4 linked regions of the Homo sapiens genome follow. The protein of the gene in region 1 interacts with the protein of each later gene in a pairwise test. Each region holds a gene or a part of one and is shown in the gene's direction. Other genes may lie near its edges.

Region 1 (7,898 bases):
TTTTAGTAGGGACGGGGTTTCACCGTCTTAGCCAGGATGGTCTCGATCTCCTGACCTCGTGATCCACCCACCTCGGCCTCCCAAAGTGTTGGGATTACAGGCGTGAGCCACCGCGCCTGGCCTTTTTTTTTTTTTTTTAGTAGAGACAGAGTTTCTGCACGTTGGCCAGGCTGGTCTTGAACTCCCGACCTCAGGTGATCCACCTGCCTCGGCCTCCCCAAGTGCTGGGATTATAGGCATGAGCCACCACGCCCGGCCTGAAATTGTTTTATTTCATTTTCAGTTTTGTTTTGTTTTTTTTTTTTTAATAGAGATGAGGTCTCACTATGTTGCATAGGCTGGTCTTAAACTCCTGAGCTCAAGCAATCCTCCTTCCTCAGCCTCCCACAGTGCTGGGTTTATAGGCATGAGTTACAATGCCTAGCCCATTTTTAGTATTTTATAGCTATAGTGGATAGAAATATAATTGATTTTTATATTGACTTGTGTCCTGCAAGCTTGCTGAACTAAATTTATTAGCTCTAATAGGTTTTTTTTTGTGTGTGTGTGGATTCCTTAGGATTTTCTATATATAAGATTGTATCTTCTACAGATACAGTTTTACTTCTTCCTTTCCAATTTGGAAGCCTTTTGTTTTATTTTCTTGCTTAATTGCCCTGGTTCAAACCTCTAGTACCATGTTGAATAGAAATGATGGGACTGGGCATCCTTGTTAGGTTTTGTTATTAAGGAGAAAGTGTTCGGTCTTTCACCTTTAAATATAATATTAGCTGTGGGGTTTTCATCAGGTTAAGGAAATTTTTTTTTTTTTTTTTTTTTTTTTTAGATAGTGTCTCACTTGGTCACCCAGGCTGGAGTGCAGTGGCGCAATCTTAGCTCTCTACAGCGTCGATCTTCCTCCTGGGCTCAAGCAATTCTCCTGCTTCATCCTCCTGAGTACCTAGGACTACAGGCAAGTGCCACCATGCTTGGCTAATTTTTGTATTTTTTGTAAAGATGATGTTTTGCCCTGTTGCCCAGGCTGGTCTCAAACTCCTGAGCTCAAGCAATCCGCCCACCTCAGCCTCCCAAAGTGCTGAGATTACAGGCATGTGCCACTGAGCCTGGCTGAGGAAGTTTCTTTTTGTTCTTAAATGGCTTTCTTTTTTTTTTTTTTTTTTCGTAAAAGGATGTTGGATTTTGTCAAATGCAATTTCTGCACCTTTTGAAATGATTGTTTTAGTTCTTATTGTATATCATGTTGATTGATTTTTGTATGTTGAACCAGCCTTGCATTCTTAGAATAAATCCCACTTGGTCAAGGTGTATAATCTTTTTGTGTATGTTAAATGATATTTAATGTATAATAAATTTAAACCTTTCTTTGCCCCAACAGAAAATGATCCACAGTCTATTTCTCATAAACTGTTCCGGTGACATATTTCTAGAGAAGCACTGGAAGAGCGTTGTGAGCCAGTCTGTCTGTGATTATTTCTTTGAAGCTCAAGAGAAAGCTGCTGATGTTGAAAATGTACCACCTGTCATTTCAACACCTCACCACTACCTCATCAGTATCTACCGGGATAAGCTCTTCTTTGTATCTGTCATACAGACCGAAGTGCCACCTCTCTTTGTAATTGAGTTCCTACATCGAGTTGCTGACACTTTTCAGGTTGGTTATCTATCATACCTTTCTAAGTTAAATGACCCAAGTTAGCTGAAGGTGAGACATGATTATATTATTTAATTACCCAGGTTTTGATGTTTACTGTCTGTCTCTCTCTGTTTAAGCGTAAATTCATAAGCCCTTTTCTGTGTGGTATACAGTTACACACATGGCTGCTCTATTCACTATTTTTTATATGTATTACAGATTACAGTTGGCTCTCCATATACATGGGTTCTGCATCCATAAAGTCACCCAACCTTACATGGCAAATATTTGAACAAAAAAATCGAACTGAACATGTACAAACTTCTTCTCATTATTACTTGAACAATACAGTATAACAAATAGTTACATAGCATTTACACTGTGTTAGATATTACAAGTAATCTAGAGGTGATTTAAAGTATATAGGAGGATGTGTATAAGTTATGTGCAAATACTATGCCATTTTATGTCAGCGACTTGAGAATTGTGAACTTTGGTATCTACAGGGGATCCTGGAACTAATTCCCACAAATACCAAGGGATGACTGTATATCATCAGGAAACAATAATGCCCTCCGCATACAGTTCTCTCAATGGTCTCAAGATTTTCATTGGTTATGAACTCTTCTATATTTACATTTTATTATTTTGTCTTGCGGAATATACCAAATAATTTAAGCTTATCTATATGTATTTTGGGATAATCAGGGTGAATGAAGTTTATAGCTCAAATTCCAATTTAATGTTTCAATACTTTCTGGTATAATATGTAATAGGAATTAAATTCAACCTAGAAATATCAAGAAAATATTGAGGAATAATATTAGGACTATAGAGGGGTTTTTTTTGTTTGCTTGTTTTGTTTTGTTTTGTTTTGTTTTGTTTGAGACGGAGTCTCACTCTGTTCCCTAGGCTGGAGTGCAGTAGCATGATCTTGGCTCACCGCAACCTCCGCCTCCCGGGTTCAAGCAATCCTCCCGCCTCAGCCTCCCAAGTAGCTGGGACCACAGGTGTGCACCATCACACTCAGCTAATTTTTGTATTTTTAGTAGAGACAGGGTTTCACCATGTTGGCCAGGCTGGTCTTGAATTCCTGACCTCAAGTGATGCATCCGCCTCAGCCTCCCAAATTGCTGGGATTACAGGCATGGGCCACCATGCCCGGACTATAGAGGGTTTTTTCCCCCGCTCTGTTTTATATATGTTCAGCAGCTTAAGCAATGAATTATGCTACTCTAAGTTTATTCTTCAGAACAAAAAGTATTTAGCAGGCCTTTCTTTTTGCCTTCCATTGTGTGATATTTTGTGTGTATTTTGTCAGGACTACTTTGGTGAGTGTTCAGAGGCTGCAATTAAGGATAATGTGGTCATAGTATATGAACTCTTAGAAGAAATGTTAGACAATGGATTTCCACTGGCTACCGAATCTAACATTTTGAAAGAATTGATTAAACCACCAACAATTCTACGCTCTGTTGTCAACTCTATTACAGGTAAGATGAAAACATACTGTGCTAGTAACTGAGCAATTAAAACTTTGTAAACAACTCATTATTGCTCATGATCTGACATATTATTAAGGTAGTACAATTTGGCCATAATTAAAGTTACTGGTAAAGTTAAAATGGATGTACTATATATTTATTTTCATGGAAAGAGGCTAGACCTTAAGTGATAAAGAACTTTTGGTTATTACTCTTTTTTTTTTTCTAAAACACCACAACAATATTATTACCATTATTTAACACTAAATACTAAGACTGAATAAATTGTTCCAGTTATTCCTAAAGAAGCCAGTATATGAGCCCACTTAGAAGAGAATTTAGTCCATTTATAGACTGGCATTTTAATATTTAAAATAGCATTACATAACTGGTATGCTGCTACTCCACAATTACTAGAGAATAGAAAATTTAAGACGCTTAACCACACAGTACTACAATCTCCTCCAAGTCTTTGTTTTTATGCATTCAGAAGATGTATTAAGAAAAAATAGGAAATAGTTTACTTATGAGATCTCATGCATTGTGGGCCTGTACTTGTGTTGTAAGCTTCCAGCTGGGTTTAATTCTTGAGTGTAGCTAGAAATTAGGCACATCCAGATACCAATATTCTTTCGAAAGCATTAAAGTCTTTTAGACAAAGATTCCTATGAAATGTTATATGCCACTCCAACTCCACTGTCAACCATTGTAAACCCCTGTCCAGTGCCTTGACCTAAAAATGAGGTGAGAGAGGCCTATAAGAAAAAGATCATTCAGCAGCTCTTTATTCATCCTTTGTGTAAGGACGAATGTTAGGAGAAATTCAAAGAAAGATAAGATGGTGTGTCTGTACTCCTAAAACTTATACTCTGAATGGGACATTGGAAAAAAAATTAAGTAAATAACTGTATAAGACTTTAAAAAGCAATTCCATACTTCACAGATAAAGTAATAGCATTGGAAAATAAATACACATGATGTAACGTTAAATTGAAAAGTCAGCACAAAACTGAAAAAAATTATTCTTATATATAAATATTCACTCCGACAAAAAAGTATTTACAATGATTATACCCAGCTAAATACAGATTATATTTATTTTTGCTTTATACTTTCTAATTTTCCAAAATAAACATGTATTTTATAGTCAGAGAAAAGTTACTAAAATATATAATGCAAAACATAACAGATTCATTAGATAGTGTATTACAAAGTTCAAGAGAATGGTTCCATTAATGAAGTAATCCCTCCTGAACTGTGGTGGGTGGCCACCTTGGAAAATCAGTAGAATTCAGGAAGTGAGGAAGGAATAAGAGCATTCTCCATGGTGGAACTGTATGAGAAAAAAACACACATGAAAGAGAAAAACCTAAAGTTTTATTAATCCCTTTAGCAGAAGCAGAACTGTTTTTCACTTGAGAAGTTAGAGATCAAATTAAAAAGTAGAGAAAGTCCTTCAAAGCTAGGATAAATATTTAGCTTTTATCATAAAGCCAGTGAGCAAACATTGAACGTTTTTGAGCAGGAAGATAACATGATTATAGGTTGCAGGTAGGAACACCAATCATAAGTAGACTGCAAAATTGTAGATACAGTATGATTGCGACTATATTTTAAAGTGCAATTAAAAACCAAAATTATCAAAATAGAAAAAAATGCAACCTTCTGGTGGTGGAAATATTCAAAGAAATATACCAAAATGTTAATATTATATTAAAATGTTAATACCATAATATTAACAAAAATGTTAATGGTAGATATATTTTGTTAGTAAGAAGACAGGTGTTTTTCTTTAAACCACTTCTCTGAACTCTACCTTTTTGTTGTTGTTAAGTATGTAGTACTTTCGAATGGGAAATATAAATTAACCAAAATATTAAGTAAGTCACAGCTCAAAGATATGTGTTTTGGACAACCAGACTTATTTTTAGGCATGTGTCAGTTTACCAGGAAATGAGCTGGATACTGAATACTAGCTATATTGCAGCCGTATGGGTATGCTGACCTTAAAATAGGAAAAGGCCAGATTCCATTTACTCCACTGAGGCGTGCTTGGCAGCATCTCATGTAAAATAAAGTTGAATACTGAAGGGCCTAGTTATAACTCTGTATTCTCACTGGAGACATTTTATTGGCAGAAGGTTTTGAAACAACCAACCTCTTTTTTCATCAGTGGCAGAGATTCTGTTGTTGAGCCACTGGAATTAGATTAGATTACTGTTAACACACAGGAGGCAAAAGATAAGTAAATAAATTTAACCTGGTTTGGCAGGTAGACAGAGGGCCACATGGCCTATATTTCTTTTCTAGAAATTTGATCATGTTGGTATGGATATGTCTGACAATTCTAGTGACCATCCACAACTTCATTAAGAAAAATCCAAACATTGAAGAAGCAGCTTTTTTTTTCCTAGTAATAAATTTTCTCATGACTGTTTTATACATCAGCTTTGCCTTCTCCTTTTTTGGTTTCTAGGCAGTAGTAATGTTGGGGACACACTCCCCACCGGGCAGCTGTCCAACATACCATGGCGTCGGGCAGGGGTAAAGTACACAAACAATGAAGCCTATTTTGATGTTGTTGAAGAAATAGACGCAATTATAGATAAATCAGGTAATTGTGTGCATGTCATCTTATTTGGGGAAAAACAATTCATCTGACACAGATGAATAGAAAACTGAAGTCCTGGCCGGGCGCGGTGGCTCACGCCTGTAATCCCAGCCCTTTGGGAGGCCAAGGCAGGCGGAACATGAGGTCAGAGTTCGAGACCAGCCTGGCCAACATGGTGAAACTCTGTCTCTACTAAAGATACAAAAAATTAGCCGGGCATGGTGGCGCGCACCTGTAATCCCAGCTACTCGGGAGGCTGAGGCAGGAAAATTGCTTGAACCCAGGAGGCAGAGGTTGCAATGAGACAAGATCATGCCATTGCACTCCAGCCTGGCTCTGTCTCAACAAAAAAAAAAAAAAGAAGAAGAAAGGAAAAGAAAATTGAAGTCCTTTGGCAGTATGGTTTCGGTGGAAAGGCATTCATTATCTGATGATTTTTAAATCTGTTTGTTTATTTATTTATTTATTTGAGACGGGGTCTCACACTGTTGTCCAGGCTGGAGTGCAATCACATGATCTTGGCTCACTGGAACCTTCACCTCCTGGATTCAAGCGATCCTGCTGCTTCAGCTTCCCAAGTAGCTGGGATTACAGGCATGAGCCACCACACCTGGCTAAATTTTTTTTTTTTTTTTGAGACGCAGTTTCACTCTTATTGCCCAGGGTGGAGTGCAATGGTGCAATCTCAGCTCACCGCAACCTCCGCCTCCCGGGTTCAAGCAGTTCTTCTGCCTCAGCCTCCCGAGTACCTGGGATTACAGGCATGCACCAGCATGCCCAGCTAATTTTGTGTTTTTGGTGGAGATGGGATTTCTCCACGTTGGTCAGGCTGGTCTCGAACTCCTGAACTTAGGTGATCTGCCCGTTTCGGCCTCCCAAAGTGTTAGGATTACAGGCGTGAGCCACCGCTCCCGGCCCTGGCTAATTTTTTGTATTTTTAGTAGAGACGGGGTTTCACAATGTTGGCCAGGCTGGTCTCAAGCTCCTAACCTCAAGTGATCCACCTGCCTTGGCCTCCCAAAGGGCTGGGATTACAGGCGTGAGCCACTGCACCTGGCCCATAAATCTGTTTATTTTGCCCATAGGTTACATATAATTTTCATAACCACTAGTTGAGGTCTGCCAAACATGTAAATCAGAACTCATAATGCCTTACTTTAAGCCAATTATTACCCTATGTACCTCTACCTCTTGCTATTTATTCCTTCTAACATTTATTGAAAATCTGCTATATACCATGCTTTTGCTACTACATTATGTGCAGTACTTCTGGTAAAAGCCCCTATCTGATTATTTTTCACTTTCTTTTTTTTTTTTAAGTACAGGGTCTTGCTCTTTTGCCTAGGCTGGAGTGCATTGGCGCAGTCCCTGCTTACTGTAGCCTTGACCTCCAGCTCATGTGATCCTCCTACCTCAAACTCCTGAGTAGCCTATAGTCCCAGCCAATCAGGAGGTACACGCCACACGCCACCATGCCTGGCTAACTTTTATTTGTTTTTTTTGTACAGACAGGGTCTCACCATGTTGCCCAGGCTGGTCTTGAACTCCTGGGCTCAATCAGTTTACCTACCTCAGCCTCCCAAAGTGCTGGGATTACAGGCATCAGCCACCACACCCAATCTGATTATCTTTTTAACCAGACAAAACAATAGTACTCTATAAGAATCGTAAAATTTTATTATTAAAAATAGCAGCCGGGCATGGTGGATCACGCCTGTAATTCCAGCACTTTGGGAGGCCGAGGCAGGCAGATCACTTGAGGTCAGGAGTTTGAGACCAGCCTGGCCAACATGGTAAAACCCCGTCTCTACTATAAATACAAAAATTAGCTGGGCGTGGTGGCAGGCGCCTGTAAACCCAGCTACTTGGGAGGCTGAGGCAGGAGAATTGCTTGACCCTGGGAGGCAGAGGTTGCAGTGAGCCAAGATTGCACCACTGCACTCCAGCCTGGGTGACAGAGTGAGACTCCATCTCTAAAAAAACAAAAAAAGAAAAAAGAAAAAAAATCTAGTCCTTCCTTTACATTTATTTTACACATAAGGAAAGCCCAGAAGGGTTAAGTGAACTGTTCCAGGTCACACAACTTGTTAATATGTAATGATGGCTTATTGTGAATTATAGTCAATATCTTCTCTTCCATGAGTCCCCTTTTCATTATAACATTCCATCT
Region 2 (6,352 bases), on another chromosome or scaffold:
ATGCGTTTTCTACCAAGTGGTTGAGCTGGTGCCATTGAGGGCAGAACTAGGTTGTAATGTGGCCGTTGTCTTGAGATGCTGTCCGGGTGGAAGAGTTCTGTTGAAGGCATACTTTATGTTGTAAATTGACTGTTGTCTCTTAAGGCAATCTCCTGGTGGGAGAAAGTTCTGGTTCTAGACCCTCTAAGTAGGTAGATAAGTTTGCCCTGTAGGGACTATCTGGTGAAGGGAAGGTAATGGTTATAATTACATTTCTAAAGAGCTAAGTAGAGGCAGGGCACAGTGGCTCACACCTGTAACCACAGCACTTTGGGAGGCTGAGGCAGGCGGATCACCGGAGGTCAGGAGATCAAGACCAGCCTGGCCAACATGATGAAACCCTGTCTCTACTGAAAATACAAAAATTAGCCAGGCGTGGTGGCAGGTGCCTGTAATCCTAGTTACTAGGGAGCCTTAGGTAGGAGAATCGCTTGAACCCAGGAGGCCGAGGTTGCAGTGAGTCGAGATCACACCACTGCACTCCAGCCCGGGCAACAAGAGTGAAACTCCATCTTAAAAAAAATAAAAATAAAGAGCTAAGTAGGAAGTGGGAGACAGGAGAAAAAGGGGGAAAATCTTAAAAATAATTCATTCTCTTTCTCTTAGAAAAATGCTCTTTTTCTTAGAAAACTCAGTCTCTGTTACACGTTTACAGTTATAGCAACATTAGTCACAATAGGCAACACGGAAACAATCCAAATGTCCATGGAAAACTGTTTGGCCTTGTTTATGAAAGCTGAATATCCACATACCCTGTGATCCAGACTTAAAAAACAACAACAACAACAACAAAAAAAACTTCATGTGTACATACATGGTGTAATGCAAAGAGAAATGTTAATGAGAGTTTAAATCACTACAAACTTTGGGGAGGATAGTTTTGCAATATGTATCAAAGACCTTAAAAAAATACCCATTGACCCAGCAATTCCTGTTTTAGGAGTATATTCTACAGAAGCAATCAGATACGTAAAAATGTAATTGTATTAGTGGTTTCAAAAGCTTTTTAAACGGAGGACTAAGTTATGCGTCCAAACATCAAAATTTTAGAATCTCCACTAAAATGCTCTTGTGAAAGGATATTATGATGTGTCAAAATGCCTCACAAGTAGATCAATCAATTTTAAAAAGCAGATTACCTAACGTCATGTATGGTGTGACACCAATATTAAGAAAAGCTATAAAAATTAGCCGGGCGTGGTGGTGGGCGCCTGTAGTCCCAGCTACTCGGGAGGCTGAGGCAGGAGAATGGCCTGAACCTGGGAGGCGGAGCTTGCAGTGAGCGGAGATCGCGCCACTGCACTCCAGCCTGGGCAACAGAGCGAGACTCCGTTTCAAAAAAAGAAAAAAAAGAAAAAGAAAAGCTATAAAGCAGCAAGGGGAGGGGAAAGATAGGAAGTACACACACCCTAATGTTAACAGTGATAGGATTAGTTTTAATTAAATTTGTATTAATTGGCAACAAATTTCACGGCACAAAATACAGACAGTATAAGGGATGTGCAGCAGAGTGATCTCTTCTTCCCCTTTCCCCAAGACCCCGCCCCAGGGGCAGTCGCGGTTTAAAGGGGTCTGTCACCCCTTCCTTGGGCCATTTCCGCGCTTCGCATTTTGTGATTTGCACGTGCGTTGGTGGGTTCCCGGGGGCGGGGCGCCGCGCTGGCCCCGCCCACCAGGTGCGTCCCTTGTCTCGCCCCCTGCAGACGCGCGCACGCCCACGCTGGATCCTGACACGATGCACGCGCGCCTGCGCCTGTCCGCCGATCGCCTGACGGTGCGCTGCGGCCTGCTGGGCAGCCTGGGGCCCGTGCCCGTGCTGCGGTTCGACGCGCTCTGGCAAGTGCTGGCTCGTGACTGCTTCGCCACCGGCCGCCACTACTGGGAGGTTGACGTGCAGGAGGCGGGCGCCGGCTGGTGGGTGGGCGCGGCCTACGCCTCCCTTCGGCGCCGCGGGGCCTCGGCCGCCGCCCGCCTGGGCTGCAACCGCCAGTCCTGGTGCCTCAAGCGCTACGACCTTGAGTACTGGGCCTTCCACGACGGCCAGCGCAGCCGCCTGCGGCCCCGCGACGACCTCGACCGGCTCGGCGTCTTCCTGGACTACGAGGCCGGCGTCCTCGCCTTCTACGACGTGACGGGCGGCATGAGCCACCTGCATACCTTCCGCGCCACGTTCCAGGAGCCGCTCTACCCGGCCCTGCGGCTCTGGGAGGGGGCCATCAGCATCCCCCGGCTGCCCTAGGGGCCAGGACCGGCGTGACAGCCTCCAGGTACGCCGCAGCTGCCCAGTCTCGCCTAATCTACCTAGATCAGCGTGGCTGGTCCCCTTACTGCCTGCTTCTTAGGGCCCTCTCCCTGCCCCAGCTTTCCCCGACCAATCACGCCTACAGTGCTTTGAAGGTTTCCTCTCCTAGGCTAGTTTCAAACAGGCCCTAAACAAGTCTGCTGCTGCCCTCTCATCAGACCTCCGCACCCTCACCCCACCATCACTTACACTACTTTAATCCAGTTCCTTCAAAGTGATACCCCCACAGGTAAGCCCTCAGCATCCTGAATACATCATCCGCAGCCTGGGAACCTTCTCCCTCGTACAGCACAGGAACCTGACACATAGTAGGCACACAGTAAACGTTTGTGAATGAATGGGAGTCATCCAGTCCTGACTCTTCTGTCTCTTGAGGTCCCTTGAATCTTCCGCTTCCTCCCCACCGATTTCAGCGTGTCCACATCACAGCTCCCTCCAGAAGCTGCAAGAGCTTCTTAGCAGTTCCTGGTCTGAACCCTCTCCCAGTCCTCATCTTCCACCCTAAAACTAGAGTGATCTTCCTAAAACTTCACTTAACCCCTCAGCTATGAAAAGGCTTCCAGGAGTTTCCATGAAATAACAAAAAAAAATACAAGCGCCTCACCTTAGCATTCAAGGCTTGTCTAGTCTGCCCAAAATTACTTATCCTCACCTAGCTCCTACCACTCTTCTTAGAGACTCTCCAGTCAGAAATGTGTCGCATAGTTCCACCTCCACACCTCTCTGCTGCCAGCACATTCATGCAGAAAAGTCTTTTCACCTGTCTCAGTCTTCCGCAGGCTTACCTGCGCCAGGAAGTCTAACCAAGGAACAAGAATCTCACTATCAGAGCCACAAATCTGGGACCTGTCTTTCCAACTAAATTGGAGGCTTTGGAAGGGCAGCTTTGTCCTATACTCTCTCCACCCTGAAAAGTTCCCAGAAAGCCCCTTCCCTCCCAAGCAGTGAATTAATAACCAGCAGGTGCCTATCACTGAGTAACAGAAGAGCTGAGTTAGGCGGGCCTCACAGGTCACCCAGCCAGATCTCATCTGGGGAGTCTGAGGTCCTGAAAGAAAGCAGAGCTGCGTAAAGTTACCCCGGGGTGATATAGGGGGGCCAGACGTGTGCCCCGTTCACCCACCCCCAGGCAAGCATCTGACCTGTCCCCTGGCCCAGCCCTTAGGCCCAGCTTTCAACCTGCTTACTCATTTCTCAGGGGATTTTGGGAAGGAATCAGCAGGTGACAGTTGCTAAGCAACCAAAGGGGGTGGTGTTTCCCAACTGTCTTGGGACAAAAAGGGTAAGAGCACCCTTAGATCCAGATGTTGCCAAGGAAACCCAGAGTGCCCAGCTGTCTGGAATGAAGTGACAGAGGTAGAAAACAGTAGGCCCTCACAGGAGGCCACCTTCGCTAGCAGGGAGTGGGAGGCTTCTTTCCAGGGATTTGTGTCTCCGTTCTGAAGGTTCTGCGTCCTGTTTTGTCAATTCCCTAGACGGTTTTGAAGTTATATTCTGTTAAAGCATCTTCATAGGTGCTTGGTGGGAGGCCAAGGTCGCCGAATCCTCGTGGTTTAAATAGACTTTCAGTGCATTAGTTTGAACCATATAAAACTGACAATTTTCAATAGTTTTTGAGTTAAAAATGGCACTTTTGATATGAGACAATGTAGCAGAATACCAGGCAGACAGAACCTTGCAAACACCTTAACTTCTAACCAAAGACTTTAAAACTCTGGCTGGACAGAGTTTTAAGCACTATGCTGCAGGAATCCTGAGAAAAAGGGGAAATTAATTCTATTAGGAATGGCCCAAACTGAATTGTGACAGGCAGAGGGTGTTCCTGACAGAGGGAAGATGAATACACTTGACCCCAACATTTCTGCCCATCCCTGATGACCAAGACCTCTTCCCAGACCCACAGCTGCAGGGGCCAAGTAATAACAGCTCTTAATAGTTTATAATGCACTGTTTTAATGCTTTACGACTAAACTCATCTGATCCTTTCATCAGCCCTAGAGGGTAGAAAGTTTTCCCAATTCTACACATGGCAAAATGGAGACCCAGAGTCACTTGCCCAAGGTCGCACAGCTAGTGGTGGAGCTGGAGTCTGGGCCCAGGCTGTGAGTTCCAGGTCTGTGCTCATGGCCACCAGGCCCTACTGCTCAGGGTGAATGCAGCTGGTCTCTGGCCAGTGCCTGGTGCTCTGGCCCCTCTCGTGGAGCTACTGCCCATGATGCTTTCCTAGTGCCTGGTTACTCTGCGAGACTTGAGTCTACCTTTGGACTGCCTTCCTTGGGGGTCTGAGATGAGGCCTTATGGCCCAGAGGGGAACTTGATTCAAAAATTTGGGATTCATGTAGCAGAGACAGAGCTAGACTGTAAAGGTCACAAACTAGCTGTGTCAAGGCCCGTGATAGCCAGAAAGCGGCAGTTTCAGTCCATATCAATTGTGTGACCAGGGCTAGTCACTTTTTACTTCTCAGTGCCATCTATAAAATGGGGATAATAGCACTACCTACCAAGTGCTGTGAGGCTCAAATGAGCCAAAGGTTATAAACTTGCCTTAAAACTATAGTCCTATACAAAAATTAGCTGGGCGTGGTGGTGCATGCCTGTAATCCCAGCTACTAGGGAGGCTGAGGCAAGAGAGTTGCTTGAACCCAGGAGGCGGAGATTGCAGTGAGCTGAGATTGCACCACTGCACTCCAGCCTGGGGACAGAGCAAGACTCTTGTCTCAAAAAAAACAAAAAAAACATATATACTGCTGTATCATGCCAGGATTTATCAGCATTCCCAAGGGAGCTTGCACGGTACTGACCGAGTGCTGAGACTACTGGTATTCCCAGCTGCCATGTGGCAGCAGCAGGAGCTACTAGAATATTCTCAGCACAGGAATGAGGCTTCCTTGGTTTCCATGTCTGTAAGGGTTACTGATCACTTACCTTCTTCTCTTTCAGACTTGAATCTGTAGACATTTCTTTATTGATATGGCAAATTGCTTGCAGATATTTTTAAATGACAGCAATTTTCTAATATTTGGTTTAATAAAATGTGAATAATGTCCCTTTTAACCATGGTCTTCACTGGGAGTTCATGTTGCTTCAAGTCCCTAGCACCCAGTGATACCCCCACAGGTAAGCCCTCAGCATCCTGAATACATCATCCGCAGCCTGGGAACCTTCTCCCTCGTACAGCACAGGAACCTGACACATAGTAGGCACACAGTAAACATTTGTGAATGAATGGGAGTCATCCAGTCCTGACTCTTCTGTCTCTTGAGGTCCCTTGAATCTTCCGCTTCCTCCCCACCGATTTCAGCGTGTCCACATCACAGCTCCCTCCAGTTCATGTTGCTTCAAGTCCCTAGCACCCAGACCCAGAAGGGCCTTTACTCATATCTTATTCCTTACGCAGCCTTCTGGTAGTAGTCAGCTGCTCCCTGATTAACTATCTCCAGGGATGGGGCATTCACTGCTTCTGAAGATAACTCATTAAAGTTCTCACTTACGTGTAAACAAACCCTGACTCCCACCTGTTCCCATCCAAGATCGTATTATAGCTTGAACTCCTGGTCTCAAGCAATCCTCCCACCTCAGCCTCCTAAGTAGTTGGGATTACAGGCTCACACAAGCACGCCTGGCTCACATACCACCTTCTAACATATTGTGTGACTGAATCACTATGCTATGGATTTTTATGCATCTGCCCCCATCTGAATGGAAGTTCTCTGAGGAAGGGATTGGGGCTTGTTCATGGCCATATACTCTGTGCCTAAAGCAGTGCCTGGCACAAAGATGGCCCTCAATATTTGTTCAGAGAAGGAACACATGCCATTTCCCTCTCTTTGCTCTGAAAGGAGTGCTTTCAGCATTTTCTGCCTACAAGATCCTTTGACCAGTCCTTTCTCTGATGTGGAGTGACTGCTATACAATGCCAACTAAACACAGAGGCCAAGGGCAGGAAAGGGATAAAGACAATGGAGAAGTAAAGGGCTGTAAGGAAGTGAGAATGAAGGCTTAAAGGAAAGG
Region 3 (9,276 bases), on another chromosome or scaffold:
CTTCACTTTTGTGCACCCACAGGCTCAACACCACATGGAAGCTGCCAAGGGTTGGGATTTACACCCTCTAAAGCCATGACCCAAGCTGTACCTTTGCCCTCTTTAGCCAAAGCTGGAGTGGCTGGGATGCAAGTCATCCCAAGTCCTGAGACTACACAAAGCTGCCAGGCCCTGGGTCTGGCCCATGAAACCATTTTTTCCTCCTGGACCTCCAGGTCTGTGATGGGAGGGGCTTCTGTGAAGACCTCTGATATGCCCTGGAGACACTTTCCCCATTTTCTTGGTGAAAAACATTTGGCTCCTCTTTCCTTATGCAAATTTCTGCAGCCAGCTCGAATTTCTCTTCAGAAAATAGGTTTTTCTTATCTCATCTTCATGCTGCATGTTTTCCAAACTTTTATGCTCTGCTTCCCTTTTAAATGTAGGTTCCAATTCCAAACCATATATTTGTGAATACATAAAACTGAATGTTATCAGCACCCAAATCACCTCTTGAATACTTTGCTGCTTAGAAATTTCTTTTGCCAGATGCCCTAAATCATCTCTTTCAAGTTCAAAGTTCCACAGATTTCTAGGTCAGGGGCAAAATGCTGCCAGTCTCTTTGCTAAAGCATAACAAGAGTCACCTTTGCTTCAGTTCCCAACAAGTTCCTCATCTCCATCTGAGACCACCTCAGCCTGGACCTTATTGTCCATATCACTATCAGCATTTTGGTCAAAGCTATTCAGTGAGTCTCCAGGAAGTTGCAAACTTTCCCACATCCTCCTATCTTCTTCTGAGCCCTCCAAACTGTTCCAACCTCTGCCTTTTACCCAGTTCCAAATTGCTGGGTAACAGGCAAAGTGTTAAAGTGCTGAAATGCCAATAGTGATGTCAAGGTGTGTTAGTTACCAATTGTTGTGTAACAAAGTATCAGCAAAGTTAGCAGCTTAAAACAAGAAAAAATTATTATTTAACAAAGGCTGAGAGTCAGGAATGAGAAAACTGGCTTGGCTGGAGGGTTTGGCTCAGGGTGTCTCATTAGGTTACAGGAAAGATGTCAGCCAGGGTTGCAGTCATCTGAAGGCTTGACTGGGGCTAGAGGATCTGCTTCTAAGATTGTGCATTCACAGACTGTTGGCAGGAAAAAATAGTTTCTCACCACGTGGGCCTCTCCATAGGGCTGCTTGAGTGTCCTTATCACATAGTGGCTGGCTTTGTCCAGGTGAGTGATCTAAGAGCTAGGAGGAAATTGCAATGCCTTTTATGATGCTGCCATGTTCATCATGTAACATAGCGCCCCACTCCCAGTATCAATTTACTATATCAGTCTGTTCTCATGCTGCTAATAACAACATAACCAAGACTGTGTAATTTATAAAGGAAAGAGGTTGAATTGACTTAGAGTTCCACATGGCTGGGGAGGCCTCACAATCATGGTGGAAGATGATGAAAGAAGAGCAAAGTCATGTCTTACATAGTGGCAGGCAGGAGAGCTTGTGTGGGGAAATTCCCCTGTATAAAACCATCAGATCTTGTGAGACTTATTCACTATCATGAGACCAGCACAAGAAAGACCTGCCCCCATGATTCAATTACCTCCCACTGGGTTCCTTCCATGACACGTGGGAATTATAGAAGCTACAATTCAAGATGAAATTTGGGTGGGAACAGAGCCAAACCATATCACCTTCTTAAAGATGAAGTTTCCAAGAATTTATGGACATATTTTAAAACAGCCACACATGGTTTGCGAATTGGCAGCATTGTCTTTAGGTAGTGCCAAAGTTTATTTTTCAGAAGTTCAAAACTTGACTCTCATACACACATATAGTGAGCATGTGTCAAAGATTTACTATTTTTCATAAGTGAGGGAATCAGCAAGATTATAAAGCTGATTATCAAAAGATAATTCAGGGAATGGAGGCTTATACCGTCAGTCAAGAAATAAAGGCTGAAATAGGTTGGCTAAGTTACGTTTTAAAGACAGCTTTATGACTTGTGAGGCAATAAAACTGCACCCTTTGGAGTTATCTTTTCTATCAGACAGGAATAATGTGTAATTTATCAATGTTCTCTTAGTTCATGGCTAATTTCACAGAGTCTGAGACCTAATTAGTAAGTCAAGCAAAGGGATAGGTCCAGAGAGAACTTATTGTTGGTGAGGCCTGTTTGATAATGTTTTCATATAATATTGACAGTATACACAGTCATAGTTTCATTTTACTTATTATTTATTTATTTATTGAGGCAGAGTCTAGCTCTCTCTGTCATCCAGGCTGGAGTACAGTGGCTCAATCTTGGCTCACTGCAACCTCCACCTCCCAGGTTCAAGCAATTCTCACACCTCAGCCTCCTGAGTAGCTTGGATTACAAATGTGCACCACCAACCCGGCTAATTTTTGTGTTTTCAGTAGAGATGGGGTTTTGCCACGTTGGCCAGGCTTGTCTCATTTCATCTTATTTCTACTGTCATTCCATTTGGTCAATTTGTAATTTAATAATTTTGTACAAGGCAGTTTCTACATTAATTTTATTTTTCTGAAAAGTGTCTATCATATTAGTGGCATTATGAAAATCGTAGATTATTTTCTGTGTTTTGAACAACTTGATATTTTATTTATTCTTGAACACTTGTAGGACCTCTTGGCTCATATGTCTGAATACCATTTCTTTAAAATGTACGCTTTAACATGTACACATATGTAACAAACCTGCACATTGTACACATGTATCCTAAAACTTAAAGTATAATAATAATAATAAAAGAAAAAAGAAAAATAAAACTTAAAAAAAAAGTGTATGCTTTAACAATAAATTATTAATAAATAGTTATCTGTGTTATTCAAGATATAATTAAATTGTTTTTTGTGCACTGACCCTTACCTTTATTTCAGATCCATCACAGAGAGTGCATGGAGGTATTTAAACTGCATTAACTGTTTCACAATTAAGTATTATCTTATCAATTAGGTATTCAAGAAAGATCACTTACAGAATTATAGATGGCATGAGCTAGATTTTACTTTCTAAAGAAATAACCAGATACATGAGCAAAGATGTTAATACAAAGATGTTTGTCACAACATGGTTTTCAATAGCAAAAAAAGAGAGAAAAATATATAAAAGACAAATAACAGTGGATAGGTTTCAATAAATAATGTTACAGTGATACAGTTAAATACTATACAGCTATTGAAGCATGTCATTATTCATATTTAGTATGGAAAGATATTTTGCTATTTTGCCACATGAAAAAATGAGGTTGGAAAAAGTATAGGTTTTGTGAATCTGTTGTATGAAAGCTGTCTATAGTTACATGTGTATGTGTGTGGAGGAAATAGTGTTGTCATTGGTTTTCTGATGATGCACTCAGAAAAGACAAGTATTCACATTTTTTCTTGTGGCTGATCTGGATTTTCAGGTTTTTCTACAATGAACATGTAGGCTGAACATTCCCTAAGCAGGAGAGTCCCACCTCTAACATCTCCTGTAGGCCTGGCAATGGCAGGCAGGAAAGACAGAGGAAGGAAGGAGGGAGAAGGGAAGGAGTGAAGGAAGGAGTGAAAAAGGTAAGGAAGAAAGGGAATAGGGGAGGAAGGGAGGAAATGGGAAGGGAAAGAAGGAAAGGAAGGAAAGAGGGAGGGAAGAAAGGAAGGGAAAAGGGAGGGAGTGAGTGAATGAAAGATGGAAAGAAGGAAGAAAGGGAGGGAGGCAGGGAGGAAAGAAAGTCGCGCTTCCCTTGAGCTGCCATGGGCACTGACTCTTAGGGTCTGAAAGCCCCTGAGATGCAAAAGCCTAGTGCTCACAAAGAGCTGGAAAGCCTCAAGGAAGTTCTTCAATATTTCTGGAAGGAAACTGTCTCCAGAAGCTTCCCTCCCCACGACAGATAATGAGCAGCAAGTGCTTCTGGCGACTTAGGGTGATGTGAAATCACGCTGGGAATCCTGCTCCTCCTCAGGTCCTGGCAGTTTCAGGGCCCCTCCCTAGGCCTTACTTAAAAGGCTGAGGCATCCTTGGAGGAACAGGCAGACTCCACAGCTCCCGCCAGGAGAAAGGAACATTCTGAGGTATGCTCTGGGGCGCTGGTGGTACCGGAGCTCTCTCCTGACCCCAGACCCAGAATCTGCTCCGTGGAGGCTGTTCACATGCTGGGGAGCTCGGTGCAGCTGCTTGCTCCCCAGACCCCAGCCAACTCAGCCTCTCTCTCCATGATTTTCTGTTGTTTATTCCAAAATAGGGGAGTCTACACCCTGTGGAGCTCAAGATGGTCCTGAGTGGGGCGCTGTGCTTCCGGTGAGTGTATGAGGCCCTGGTTTGGTGGTGTCCTCCGGAGGAAGTGAGTTCTGGATAGACCCGTTGTCCAGCTCTGAGCAGGAGGGAGGAAGGGAGGGGCTGCCATTGCAGCTGGGAAATTGTGACCAGCACCTCACTGCTCTTAGAGTTTTCCCAGCCTTTTTCAAATAGGGGCAGGACTGGGGCAGGCCATCTCACAAGGGGTCCCTGATGCTGAGGGGGATAAGTGAACCTCCCAGTCTAGAGCTCCAGCCAAGTCTATCCAAGGTGGGAACGGGGGCCAGGATCCCTGCTCAGAGCTCCGCCATTGTCCCCCATCACAGTGAATGGATGTAAGCTCACCCACTCTGTGCCCCTGCCTCCCTGCTACTCTTTGGGGATAATAATAAAACAAAAACCATTACCATCAGTCAGTCTGTCCACCCACTGGCATGTACCAAGCCAGACACTCTGCCGTGTTCTGGGCTTTACAACAGAGGATGAGAGTGGTCCTTTCTCTCAGTCTAATAAAGCACTTCCCATGATGTGTTCTATGGGACTCGATTAGAGGAGTCCCACAGAGGCATCCAGGAGATGCTTTACACAGTGGAGCTCTCTGATCAAGTAAATGCAGGGAATTCTGCTTTCTACATCCTCTCATAAGAGAACCACAGCCCAGCTCAGCATATGAGTGACTCTGAGGTTTTCTGAAGTAAGGCAACTTGTTGAATTGTATTTAGCCATGCATCGACCCAATTTTTACACTGCATCCTTTTCCCCCATATAACTTTTGGAGAAACCCACTTTAGGATACATCTTCCACCTCATAGGATGCCAGGAAATCAACTGAGTTCAAAGATGAGAAACAACTTTGAAAAGTTAAATAAAAGAAATTTAAATTTAAAGAAACTCCTCACTTAGTAAGGAATATATGACCAAATAGAAATACATGTATCTTGAAGAATTGAAGAATCAGGCTTTAACGTGGAAGAGGCCTGGATGTTATCCAACCCATCATCTTAGTGTAGCAATGGGGAGGCTCAGGCCCAGAGTGGGCGAGAGAGTTGTCTCCTGCGACTCAGCAGCATTGGAGGCAGAGATGGGGCAAGAACCTAGGGCTCTGACTCACCGTGCAGCTTCTCTTCCAGCAGGAGATGGGTTGGGGCAGAAAAGGTTGAATAGGGTGAAGGAGCAAACCACAGACTCCAGTGGGAGACTGTGGGGTCATCCTCCTTGTAGGGCATGAGCCCAGCAGGGCTGGGAGACAAGGCTGTGCTGTTACTTCTGGCACAGTAGGAAGAAAGAGAGACAAAATGCCTGAGATCAGGGGGTTCTCTGGATCCAGGGCATGCTGGAGTGTCCACCCTCCTCCTAATGTAGTCCTCACCCCTTCCTGATGTTTCAGAATGAAGGACTCGGCATTGAAGGTGCTTTATCTGCATAATAACCAGCTTCTAGCTGGAGGGCTGCATGCAGGGAAGGTCATTAAAGGTTGGTGATGAAACATGACCCACTTTCCTTGGTCTCTATACACTCTCAGGGGAGGGGGCCTGAAGAGGGCTTAGAATAGTCATACAGATTAGCATAGGCCTACAGAGCCCAGGCATTGGGGCAGCACAAACCAGGCTCTAAGCAAAGGCAAATAAAATACTACACCTCTCAGCAAAGTGAAGACACAGGCTCTGGGGCCACCTGAAGCTTCTATGCAGAAGTGGGAATGTTTTCCAAGAGGCTTGTCTTGTCATTCCCTTACAGGTAGATTTAGGTCAAGCATTGCATTCCCTGGGAGCCAGTAAGTACCAAGGAGAGAACTAACGTAGATTCTCTATACCTTTTTTCCCATATGGGAGTGGGTTTCTGCCTCTCCACCCTGGGTCCCCTCTGCTCTCTGAAGATCCTCAGTCACTTAGAGTGGAGGGACCCAGAGAACAGGTGGCATTGTTGGACCTCCTGCTTGCTCACTCTGCCCCATGCACTGCAACACGTCCCTCTCTAAAATAGTTTGCACCTGCCCACCTGGGGCACCCTTGCTGAGCACAGATGCCAGGTAGATCCTTCAGCTAGGCCATATGTGTATGTGTGTGCTTACTGGTGTATGTATGTGTGCATGCAGGCATATATGTGTGAGCATGTGTGCATGCATGTATCTGTGTGTAACCATGTATGTGTGAGTGCAGGTATGTAGGTATGAGCATGTGTGTGTATATGTATATGTGTGCATGCATGTATCTGTGTATGTATGTATCTGATGTATGTGGGTGGTGAGGGGATGTACAGAGAGGAATGAGACCCTCTTTTGCTCTCAGCAACATCACAGGGTGTAGAAAGTTGTCCAAACAATTCCAAAGGGGGGCTTATCAAGACAGGGTTCAGAAAAAGGCCTGAGACCCAAGGGACATTAAAGGAGGGGGTTGAATCTATTTTGGGGTGTAGAGGCTTGAAGATTTGACCCTGAACTAGAGGGTGGAGTGGAGGTGGTACAATGTGCTTCCATGCCTTGATGTCCACTCTGAGCCAGTGGACAGGAGAAGCCATGTCATGACAGCTGCTGAGAAGCCTCCCTTCTGCCCAGCCTGGGGGCAGGCCGTCTTACAGCAGTCCTGTGCCCTAGAGCCCAGGACAGGGGAAGAAGGAGGGAAAGGCATCCAGGGCCCTGCATCTGGCCTCTTTCCCACAGGTGAAGAGATCAGCGTGGTCCCCAATCGGTGGCTGGATGCCAGCCTGTCCCCCGTCATCCTGGGTGTCCAGGGTGGAAGCCAGTGCCTGTCATGTGGGGTGGGGCAGGAGCCGACTCTAACACTAGAGGTGAGACTTGGGGCATCCTCACTGGGGACTCAGCCACAGATGCTGAGCCTACTGAAGCCGGGCAGCCCACAGCCCTGGTGCTGTGGGACACCCTAGCAGGATTCTGTTGATGGCAGCTTTGCCTCCTCCCTAAGGATCCTGCCCAGCCCTCCCTCTGCCCCTGCTTCTGCCCTCACCTGACCTCCCCTCCTCTGCCGGCAGCCAGTGAACATCATGGAGCTCTATCTTGGTGCCAAGGAATCCAAGAGCTTCACCTTCTACCGGCGGGACATGGGGCTCACCTCCAGCTTCGAGTCGGCTGCCTACCCGGGCTGGTTCCTGTGCACGGTGCCTGAAGCCGATCAGCCTGTCAGACTCACCCAGCTTCCCGAGAATGGTGGCTGGAATGCCCCCATCACAGACTTCTACTTCCAGCAGTGTGACTAGGGCAACGTGCCCCCCAGAACTCCCTGGGCAGAGCCAGCTCGGGTGAGGGGTGAGTGGAGGAGACCCATGGCGGACAATCACTCTCTCTGCTCTCAGGACCCCCACGTCTGACTTAGTGGGCACCTGACCACTTTGTCTTCTGGTTCCCAGTTTGGATAAATTCTGAGATTTGGAGCTCAGTCCACGGTCCTCCCCCACTGGATGGTGCTACTGCTGTGGAATCTTGTAAAAACCATGTGGGGTAAACTGGGAATAACATGAAAAGATTTCTGTGGAGGTGGGGTGGGGGAGTGGTGGGAATCATTCCTGCTTAATGGTAACTGACCAGTGTTACCCTGAGCCCCGCAGGCCAACCCATCCCCAGTTGAGCCTTATAGGGTCAGTAGCTCTCCACATGAAGACCTGTCACTCACCACTATGCAGGAGAGGGAGGTGGTCATAGAGTCAGGGATCTATGGCCCTTGGCCCAGCCCCACCTCCTTCCCTTTAATCCTGCCACTGTCATATGCTACCTTTCCTATCTCTTCCCTCATCATCTTGTTGTGGGCATGAGGAGGTGCTGATGTCAGAAGAAATGGCTCGAGCTCAGAAGATAAAAGATAAGTAGGGTATGCTGATCCTCTTTTAAAAACCCAAGATACAATCAAAATCCCAGATGCTGGTCTCTATTCCCATGAAAAAGTGCTCATGACATATTGAGAAGACCTACTTACAAAGTGGCATATATTGCAATTTATTTTAATTAAAAGATACCTATTTATATATTTCTTTATAGAAAAAAGTCTGGAAGAGTTTACTTCAATTGTAGCAATGTCAGGGTGGTGGCAGTATAGGTGATTTTTCTTTTAATTCTGTTAATTTACCTGTATTTCCTAATTTTTCTACAATGAAGATGAATTCCTTGTATAAAAATAAGAAAAGAAATTAATCTTGAGGTAAGCAGAGTAGACATCATCTCTGATTGTCCTCAGCCTCCACTTCCCCAGAGTAAATTCAAATTGAATCGAGCTCTGCTGCTCTGGTTGGTTGTAGTAGTGATCAGGAAACAGATCTCAGCAAAGCCACTGAGGAGGAGGCTGTGCTGAGTTTGTGTGGCTGGAATCTCTGGGTAAGGAACTTAAAGAACAAAAATCATCTGGTAATTCTTTCCTAGAAGGATCACAGCCCCTGGGATTCCAAGGCATTGGATCCAGTCTCTAAGAAGGCTGCTGTACTGGTTGAATTGTGTCCCCCTCAAATTCACATCCTTCTTGGAATCTCAGTCTGTGAGTTTATTTGGAGATAAGGTCTCTGCAGATGTAGTTAGTTAAGACAAGGTCATGCTGGATGAAGGTAGACCTAAATTCAATATGACTGGTTTCCTTGTATGAAAAGGAGAGGACACAGAGACAGAGGAGATGCGGGGAAGACTATGTAAAGATGAAGGCAGAGATCGGAGTTTTGCAGCCACAAGCTAAGAAACACCAAGGATTGTGGCAACCATCAGAAGCTTGGAAGAGGCAAAGAAGAATTCTTCCCTAGAGGCTTTAGAGGGATAACGGCTCTGCTGAAACCTTAATCTCAGACTTCCAGCCTCCTGAACGAAGAAAGAATAAATTTCGGCTGTTTTAAGCCACCAAGGATAATTGGTTACAGCAGCTCTAGGAAACTAATACAGCTGCTAAAATGATCCCTGTCTCCTCGTGTTTACATTCTGTGTGTGTCCCCTCCCACAATGTACCAAAGTTGTCTTTGTGACCAATAGAATATGGCAGAAGTGATGGCATGCCACTTCCAAGATTAGGTTATAA
Region 4 (8,770 bases), on another chromosome or scaffold:
TGATTGCTTTTTTTAAGCAGAGGTCTCTGCCCTTATCTAGACCCTAACTCCAGACTCCAGCCAATCCTAGTGAGGAAGGGAAAGAAGTCCAGGAAAGAGCAAGAGGAAAATGATGGTCATTGACAGAGTTGATGGAAAGCATATCTTGATACGTATTCGTTACGAACACAGTCCCGTCCTAGAGTTATAGTTATGCCTAGAGTCACCACATTTGGCCATTGACATACTGTTTTCCATTGCTCTTTCCTGCTAAACTGCTTTCATTCAGCAAAGCTCTGCAACCACACGGGATCCCTGCGTGTGATGAAATATGATGTGATGTTAAACGTCTCTTCAGGAGCTCCTCATTTTTCTCTAGTGATCTATAAAGTTAAAAATTAATAATAATTATTATCCTGCATATTAGCTGTGACCTGAAACATAGCTTTGTATCATGTATTGTGAAAAAAAAATGACAACCTCATTCCTCTTTGTCCTTAATAATAGAATATGAATGGCTGAGAAGCCTTCTCCATATTGTGATAGTTGTGTTTTGAAGGGGAGGTGAGGAAGTAGTGTGTGCCTTCTTCCTGCATCCCATGGGCATAACGCAGAATACGCACTTAAGTAGGTGTGTGCACATTCAATGTGTGTTAAGTGTGATTCGGCTAAACCAGGGAGTGGCAATACTGTTCTCAATGTTGTCATATTGTCTTTGATTCATGCCTTTGAACATGTCCAGAGGGCATGACCAGGAGAGTAAAGGATTTGGAATCCATACATAGTGAAATGGTTGGACATTGACTCTATTTAGCCCAGAAAAGGGAAGATTTAAAGAGGATTGGTGACTGGCCTCAAATACTTGAAGAACTAGTGATCTGTTCCATGTGGCCCCAGATAGTAACGCTACAATTGGAGAGTGGAGCTCCCAAAGAGGTATGTCTAGACCAATATAAGCAATAACTGCCAACTAGAGGGAGCTGGCTGGAAGCAATGAGTTCCTCATCCCAGGGGACTTCAAGGGGAAGCTTGATGGCAGCTCCTCTGATGATATTAAGTTTCTTCCCTCTAAGACTCCTGAAATCTAAGGTAATGTGAAGTGGTATAGATGACTTACAGGCAGCTGACCCAGCATGTGCACTACATGCCCATGGGGAAGGGCATGAAGGGAGAATTGCTTGTTTAGTTAAGCTGGGATCAGTTGGAAAGTGTTTCTCTCTTGTAATTCATTTGAAAAGTTCTCATTGCAAGGTAGGATTTTTTTGTTGTTGTTAACAGCTACTTAGAGAAAATACGGTAAAAGCCCAGCTGGTAGGTAATGGGAGGTCATAGATGGGGAAAAAACTCAAAAAAAAAAAAAAAAAGAAATGGTTGTACAGTATGGATGTTAAATAAACTTGCCTGATTAGAGTGAAAGGAGTCAAGGAAAATTGGGTCATCAGTAAACAATGGATCCACATGGAAGGATAGGAAGAGCCATAACCATCTTAATGCCAAGTTACTAATCCCGTGAATAACCATAGCTACCCTCAGTCCCCACCCTATAAAGGGGTGTCATCACCTACTCTAAGTTCTTCTTGGTGCTGAGAATAGAAAAGGTAAGTACAATTTATGATGGGATTGGATACACTCCCCAAGGTCTGTGTTCAGTAAACATCTCTTCACTGGTTTTCAGATAACTGCTTGGGAATTCAATGCACTCTGAAATTCATATTATTTTATATGTCCTTTCCATTAAATTTTAAAGCAACAAATATTTTCAATATCATGAATTGACTGTCACACCTAGTGAAAAATACATTTCCAAGCAAATTCTTGTTAATAAAAAAATCTTTTAGTCCGGGTGTGGTAGCTCACGCCTGTAATCTCAGCACTTTGGGAGGCTGGGGCAGGCAGATCGCTTTGAGCTCAGGAGTTCAAGACCAGCCTGGACAACATGGCAAAACCCCATTTCTACAAAAAATAGAAAAATTAGCTGGGCGTGATGGCTCACGCCTGTAGTCCCTGCTACTCTGGAGGCTGAGGTTGAAGAATCACTTGATCCAGGAAGCAAAGGTTGCAGTGAGCTGAGATCGTGGCATTGCATTCTGGCCTGGGCAACAGAGTGAGACCCTGTCTCAAAAAATAATAAATAATACTAAATAAATAAATAAATAAAATATTTTATTGACATAAATATAGTTGTAAATGCCTTCGCTCCATAATAGAAACCCATGCCAGTTTGTGGTGCTTGGGTGTTGTATTTTGAATTTTTCTATTACACTCAAAGGCTAATTTCCCCTTAAGATGATTATAACAAATAATTTTTGATTTATCATATCTGAAGAAAGAAATGATAATACATGATATTAAGTCATTCAAACCATATGAAGTTTAGGTAGGAGAAAAATGTATTCTTAGTGGGAACACAAAGTCTTGACTCCATAAATAGCAATTCCTTTTCTCTGAGATCTGGTTTATACTTTCATTTTTTAAAAGTCATCCCCCCACAGATAAGTCTAAAGCCTGAAAAGCTAACTTTAATATTGTAAGTTCAGAGGCTGACTCTTGGAGGTATTAAATTAAAACTTGCCAATGCCCTTGTTCAGAGCTCTTCACATAGGATGATATTCTGCACACACACGTGCTCCAGTTATTTTTGCTTCAACATGCGAGTAACATTTTGATAGAAGTGTATGTCCAGCAAAGAATTGCTGCTAACTGATTCAAACCAGAAAAAAATTCACGGAAATACCCTCTGGTCACAGAAACAAAATTATTATTTCAATGAGAAGAAAGTTCCTTTGTGATTTTGGACATGGCATATTACCTTCCTACCATCTGTATTTCCTAAATTATTGCTATTAGACTGAATGTTAAGAAGGCTTCAATTGGCGAAAGATCCACCTCTGACTAGACCACACCGTGCATAGAACCAGCTATTGTTTGACAAAATAGAAAGGACCAATTTTAGTAATTCAGAGAAACTAACTCATGCCCTTCTAAAACCAGATCAAATAATTGTTAAGTCTTTAGTCTGATATAATAATTATCTTCAGGCCAAACCTGACTATCTGAACAGAAACAGATATTTTGCCACCAATGCACCTCACCACTGCCTACAGTCTGTTTATCATTAGAGAAACAAAGATGGTCAAGTGACATCCCTAGAGTCTGATCATAATTCAGAAACAAAGGTAAGGCTCTTTCCCTGCTTACTTGTCCAGCCCTGTCTTCCTTAGACCACCCCACATTTCCTCTCCTATTCAAAGATAGAGTCTGGAGTGTGCTAGTATAAAAAATCAGCTCATCCATCTAATAGAAAAATACACATTAGGAGAGAAATGGGAAAATATGGAATAGGAAACAGTTTGTAAAAAATCACCATCTCTTAGATAGAAACCCTTTAAGAGGCCATTGTTGAATAGGTAGTAACTCCCAGGACAACTGAAGGGGGTAAAATAATATCCTCTTGGTCATCAATAGGTAAAATTTGCCTTTACATTTTGTACATTCAATTCTAAAAGTATTTTATTTAATTAAAAGGAAACCTTCCAATTTTCTACCACTAAAAATCGGGAAAGTGACAACAATTGCCTTTGTTGTTCGAGGTGTCCTCTGGTCTTGGGTCCTGATCTGCCGAAAATTCCCTCCCTGCCCCCAGGCACATTGGTTTTGTAAATGCCTGAGTGTGGCACCCTGTGGGAAAGATGAGGCTTTGTATGAATGCATTGTTAAGGCAGGTCTTGGGGAACCGTGCACGGGGACATAATAGCAGACTTCTGATCTCTAGTTTGCATTGATCTTACATTTAGACACAGATTCAGAAGAACAGACCCTCCCTTTTCCAGTGCCTTCGGAAAGATTGCCGCTCCGTAGAATGAGTCCTTTCTCCTCCACCCTTAATCTACAACCCAGCTTCCCCGGGAGATCCTACTTTGATTTCCGATCCTCACCCCACCAGCTGAGCTTGCATTCCTCTTTACAGTCTCTCAATGCACCGGGTGAGCTGAGCTCCTCAGACCTTTCCCCTTGATCTCTGTGCCTTGAAGGCATCTCTGAAACGCGTGTCTTGTTCTTGCCATTCATGTGCGTGGTGAGGGGGATGAGCTAGTCTCTGTCTGTGGCCTGCTTTCCGTATGAGGAGCATCGGGATGGTGGAGCTTTGTGGCGTTCTTGTTTGTGTGGTGGAAGGAGCAACCATGGAGCTGTGGTCCATGTATTACGGCATTAGAAAGTGATGAGTGAAGTTATTCTTTTCGCACAAGCTGGTACCACCATGGATAACCCGCTCTGTCATCACATGCAGTGGCATAGCACGGCACGGGCGCTGGCTGAGTGGCGGCCATGGCAGTAATGTGGAGGTTTGCAGCCCTTCTGTATCCAGGAAACCAGCAGTGTCTGGGAGACTGGATCAGTGCATCCAGCCTGGAGTGGTCTGATTAAACATAGACTCAAGAGATCTTTATTGACAAAGTACAATAAAAGTAAAAACACACCAACAGCAGAAAGCATCCTATAAAGCAGGCAATCCAGAGAGCAGAAAGTGAAAGCATTTTCTGCAAAAGCCTGTGCTCACTGCTAGGACAGTGGGGCTCATGGCTGAGTGTTTTCCTAGCAATGGGGTGGGATCACTGCTAGCCGAATTAGAAACCCTTAACTCCTAATGCCTAATGACCAAAGATCTGAGTAATCAAAAAGTCTGGACTCCTCGAAGTTTCCCACAGCCAAGCTGGTTGTGACAGAGCCTAAGGCTGATTTCAGCAAAGCTAGACTTGTGTTCCTTTGTAGCGAACACTGCCTAGCAAATAGAATGTTAAAATATATAAGATGCAGACCTATTTGATCTCTTCAGGACTATATTGTAATCATGGATACACATGATGCACATTTCATATTTCCAAAGGTTTCTTTTGGTTTTTATTTTATTCTTTTTGCTCATCCCACATTCTGGAATGAAGAAGGCCACAGCATGACAGTGCAAAAAGGATGCAGGGACTTCAAGCTGTCTTTAAAATGACATTCTTCTTTGTGCTTTTATGTTTCTTATTGTTTTTCTGTGCACTATGGCTTCCCAACATGCTTTGTTATGAAACTCTTTTCCCTTGTGTCTAATGTACTGAAATATCGTTACAGTCTTTGTAATGCACATTGTCTCAAGAATAAAATGAAATGTGAGTTTTGGGATATTTGATGGGTGTATTTAAGAGCATTATTCTAGCTGTATTGTTGAATCTTAAATGTATGATAATGTATTTAAAGTAGTGTAAAAAGATTTCAGAATATTTGTTTTGAAAAAGAGTTGCACAAGGCATGATTCATTTAAAAGTTTTTAAAGCCCTATTCAGATTCTACAAACTTATTTCCAAGCTGAATATGAGAGTCGGTTTTAAAACTCCAGGTATTCCATAGTCACTATGCTCTAACACATGAATAGGAATTGAAGTGATAATTGATAGAAACAAAACATAAAAATCAGCCATGAGATGGGAGGAAACGATTCTTTTGCATGTGAATTCATCCCAGAGAAAAGCAAACTAACCAAAAGTAAGATCATAATTTTTATATTTTGTTTTTAACTCAGCCATTAGTCCTTTTTTATAGTAAGTTGCTTTTTTAATTCTTGTAAAATTCTTTTAAGTCAGCACATTATCCTGCAAATGTTTTAGGAATTAGCATATAAAGGCCTTACTAAATAGAAAAGAAAATAAAATGATCCTTTCTTTATCCCCCAGTGTTCATCAAAACCACATTTTCTAGATCAGTCCTTGAAACCACTGGAAATTGTAGGTCACACACTTTTGAACATTTTAAGACTAGGCAGTCTTCCTCCACACAATGTAATTTCTCATGGGGTACAGGTATCCAAATCTTAAGGAAGGGAGATGGTTGAAAAAGTTCCACAGGGGATTCCAATGTATCTCTGAGACCACACCCACTCCTACCATCCCTCCTCCCCTCCCTCAGGTGAGAAGGATCTTGTCTCCTAAGAAGGAAAGGAGGCAGTTTTAACACATTCGTCATGTCATTATTAATAATTATTAATAAGATGTATGTATTCACAAATGGATTACATTACACATTTAGTTATATTTAATTTGGGCTCAAGTCACAATGAAGACCTTTTGGCATAACCAGAGTTAGAAGTGCATAGAATAGTGAGAGCAGAGTTTTATCAAAATCCAGTGATTTCTCCGTTGCAATTAAGTACATTTTCCCCATTTTTAAAACAGCTAGCCTTCTTACTGTGGAAACTTTAGAGGAAAAGATTGAACTTGGAAGATGAAAAATTCAGCTACAGAGTTTAGGATCAATTGGAGGAGGATTTATTAAATGGTAAAAAGATGTGCTTTTCATTTTGAAAGAGCAGAGGGGCAGTTTTTTACCCAACAAACTAAATAATATAAAAAGGGCTTTGTTTTTTCATGGATCAGGCCTCTGGTATCTATATTCAACTGGTGCTTTTTAAGCGTATACAAGTAATTTTTATCAACCTGGTTGTTGTTTCATAGCGTTGATGTGTAGTATCTCTTTATAGGATGCAATTTTGAGACACAATCTGCACCTTACTCTCAATTAGGCAAGTATACCTATTGTAATTATCTTTTACTTACGTGATTGGTGTGCTCAATTTCCTTCACAAAATAAATGGCGGCAACTTGTCTTATGTCAATAAAATTGTCTAATTGTCATTCTAACCCTATTATAGCAGTTTCTCAAACTCTTAAAAAATGGAAAAGATGCCTGTAGTGTTTAATGTTATGCCTCAAACCTTACTTTTCCCCCAGTTTTCTTTTACATCAGTGCAAAGCACTCTTTATGAGCACTAAATGTGGGTAAAGGTACAAGTCAGAGAGCACCTGTTTAGTATATGTGGCATTTTAAATTGAGTCCTTTTGGGGTACTAGTCTATCAAGAGAGACACATTTTCTTATCCATGTCAATTTTGCTTCCTATCTCTCTCCCCCATGCCTTTCACTTGGAATGACAACAGTTGACATTAAAAAGCTGTTGGCAGGTATGGAATAACCTTATTCTGTTACCAAATAGCAAAGACCAAAGTGCATGTGAGGTGTCTCACAGGTTTAATAAATCAGCAATTACATCTCTCGAGTGTGATATTTATAGGTGGCATTTAGAACTTGGGGCGTAACAATGCGTACAAAGACATCATTCTATCTGCACCTAATGTCCGAAATTCCTACTGCTCCAGCAAAATTTCTGACGTGTTAGTTTCAGGAGTAGCACGCAAACTGTGTTTTTTAAGTTATGCAGACAGCAACCTGTCCTACATGCAAGTCACAATCACTCATGAAAATTAGTTTATGTTGCTTATAGCTTCGCAGCTTGTGAGCTTTCACTAGAGCCGAGGAAGACTTCAAAGCGACTAGATGTTAGCACTTCTGCCGAAGGGATATTTCCTGATTTCACTCCATGTGTTTTATCCCTCCTCCATCTAGGACTCTAGCTCCTAGCCTCCCCGCCTCAGGGGTTACACAGGCATCTTAGCGCATCCCCTCTCCCTTTATGTCTCTGGTGCACTGTTCTGCCAGTCACCAGGTGAAGGGACTTGCACCTTCCAAAATCGATGCCACTTCACTCCCGGATCACCTGGTTGGGAGTGCAGTCTGAGCCAGGTAACCCCTGCTGAATCGGTCGTGTGTCCTCCGTCTGCTTCTGGTGCAGAGAGTACCAACTCCCAGGACGTGCCCCTGTCTGCCCTGGCCCTGGACGCCTCCTTCCTGCATGGCAGCATGAAAACGCTACACAACGCTCCTCACCCGCCCAGGAGTATGTTATGGTGCTGAGCTTGTTGGGTCTGTCTTAATAACCTGATTCCCTTCTGTTGTTCCCAGTGGCCTGGTTTGCTTTCGACCCTGGCTCGGCGCACTCGGACATCATCCTCTCCAATGACAACCTGACAGTGACCTGTAGTAGCTATGATGACCGGGTGGTGCTAGGGAAGACTGGCTTCTCCAAGGGCATCCACTACTGGGAGCTCACGGTAGATCGCTATGACAACCACCCTGATCCTGCCTTTGGTGTGGCTCGCATGGACGTGATGAAGGATGTGATGTTAGGAAAAGACGACAAAGCTTGGGCAATGTATGTGGACAATAACCGGAGCTGGTTCATGCACAACAACTCGCACACCAACAGGTACCCTGCAGCCCCCAAACCAAGCCTTCTTCACGTTGGCTTCTGATCAGGAGTGAGAGCCCCAGTTCAAAAACCTATTACATAGACCACATTCAGGAAATCAAACAGGTGGTCTACATTAAGTAGCACAGGCAATCTATGAGCCTCAGCTGAGTCCATGCTGGTGGTTTACTTTCTATATAATGATAGAGACTTGAGTACTTTCCTACTCCCTTCATTGCTGTATTTCACCCATGGCTGGAAACTAAGAATCCCAATGGATATCCATTATAAGAAAACAATCCAGGATGCTGAAACACCCAGACCTACAACTTAACAGAAAAGCACTTTTGGGCAAGTTACTTCGTTTTTTGAACCTCAGTTTCCAAATCCATCAAATTAGTACAATAAAATTTTTCCTTGTGGGAATCTTCTGAAGATTAAATGAAATATGTGAAAATGCCTTACATTGGAAGCACCTGAAAATAGTAGCCATTCTTCTTATTACGATTCATTAAACTAAAGCTTATGGATGCCAATTTGAATGGCTTTCTACTTATAGAGAACTCTCTTATTACTGTATTAATCCAGAGCAGCCAGTTTGCTAAGGAAAGGAAATACAGTAATCTCCTTGAGGTTTTCTTCTACCACCAAAATATAGATCATTATAATT

The links.
Region 2: the proteins of AP3M1 (region 1) and TRIM14 interact in a two-hybrid assay, tested with the Homo sapiens proteins (one large-scale study listed by BioGRID).
Region 3: the proteins of AP3M1 (region 1) and IL36RN interact in binary tests that used the Homo sapiens proteins (3 or more experiments, as listed by UniProt).
Region 4: the proteins of AP3M1 (region 1) and TRIM9 interact in binary tests that used the Homo sapiens proteins (3 or more experiments, as listed by UniProt).

The regions. Positions count from the first base shown.
Region 1 is NC_000010.11:74,131,860-74,139,757, reverse strand, and holds part of AP3M1 (AP-3 complex subunit mu-1), read left to right. Parts: intron 1-826; exon of another isoform or gene 827-952; intron 953-1,375; 5' UTR 1,376-1,378; coding exon 1,379-1,651; intron 1,652-2,954; coding exon 2,955-3,126; intron 3,127-5,593; coding exon 5,594-5,731; intron 5,732-7,898. UniProt on the Homo sapiens protein: Part of the AP-3 complex, an adaptor-related complex which is not clathrin-associated. The complex is associated with the Golgi region as well as more peripheral structures.
Region 2 is NC_000009.12:98,083,396-98,089,747, reverse strand, and holds the end of TRIM14 (tripartite motif-containing protein 14), read left to right. Parts: intron 1-1,742; coding exon 1,743-2,278; 3' UTR 2,279-5,395; downstream 5,396-6,352.
Region 3 is NC_000002.12:113,055,192-113,064,467, forward strand, and holds the start of IL36RN (interleukin-36 receptor antagonist protein), read left to right. Parts: upstream 1-4,006; 5' UTR 4,007-4,050; intron 4,051-4,220; 5' UTR 4,221-4,247; coding exon 4,248-4,276; intron 4,277-5,660; coding exon 5,661-5,746; intron 5,747-6,932; coding exon 6,933-7,060; intron 7,061-7,261; coding exon 7,262-7,486; 3' UTR 7,487-9,276. UniProt on the Homo sapiens protein: Inhibits the activity of interleukin-36 (IL36A,IL36B and IL36G) by binding to receptor IL1RL2 and preventing its association with the coreceptor IL1RAP for signaling.
Region 4 is NC_000014.9:50,981,148-50,989,917, reverse strand, and holds part of TRIM9 (E3 ubiquitin-protein ligase TRIM9), read left to right. Parts: intron 1-3,751; exon of another isoform or gene 3,752-3,773; coding exon 3,774-3,962; coding exon of another isoform or gene 3,963-3,994; exon of another isoform or gene 3,995-6,496; coding exon 6,497-6,538; exon of another isoform or gene 6,539-6,636; intron 6,637-6,952; coding exon 6,953-6,976; intron 6,977-7,418; exon of another isoform or gene 7,419-7,595; intron 7,596-7,814; coding exon 7,815-8,118; intron 8,119-8,770. UniProt on the Homo sapiens protein: E3 ubiquitin-protein ligase which ubiquitinates itself in cooperation with an E2 enzyme UBE2D2/UBC4 and serves as a targeting signal for proteasomal degradation.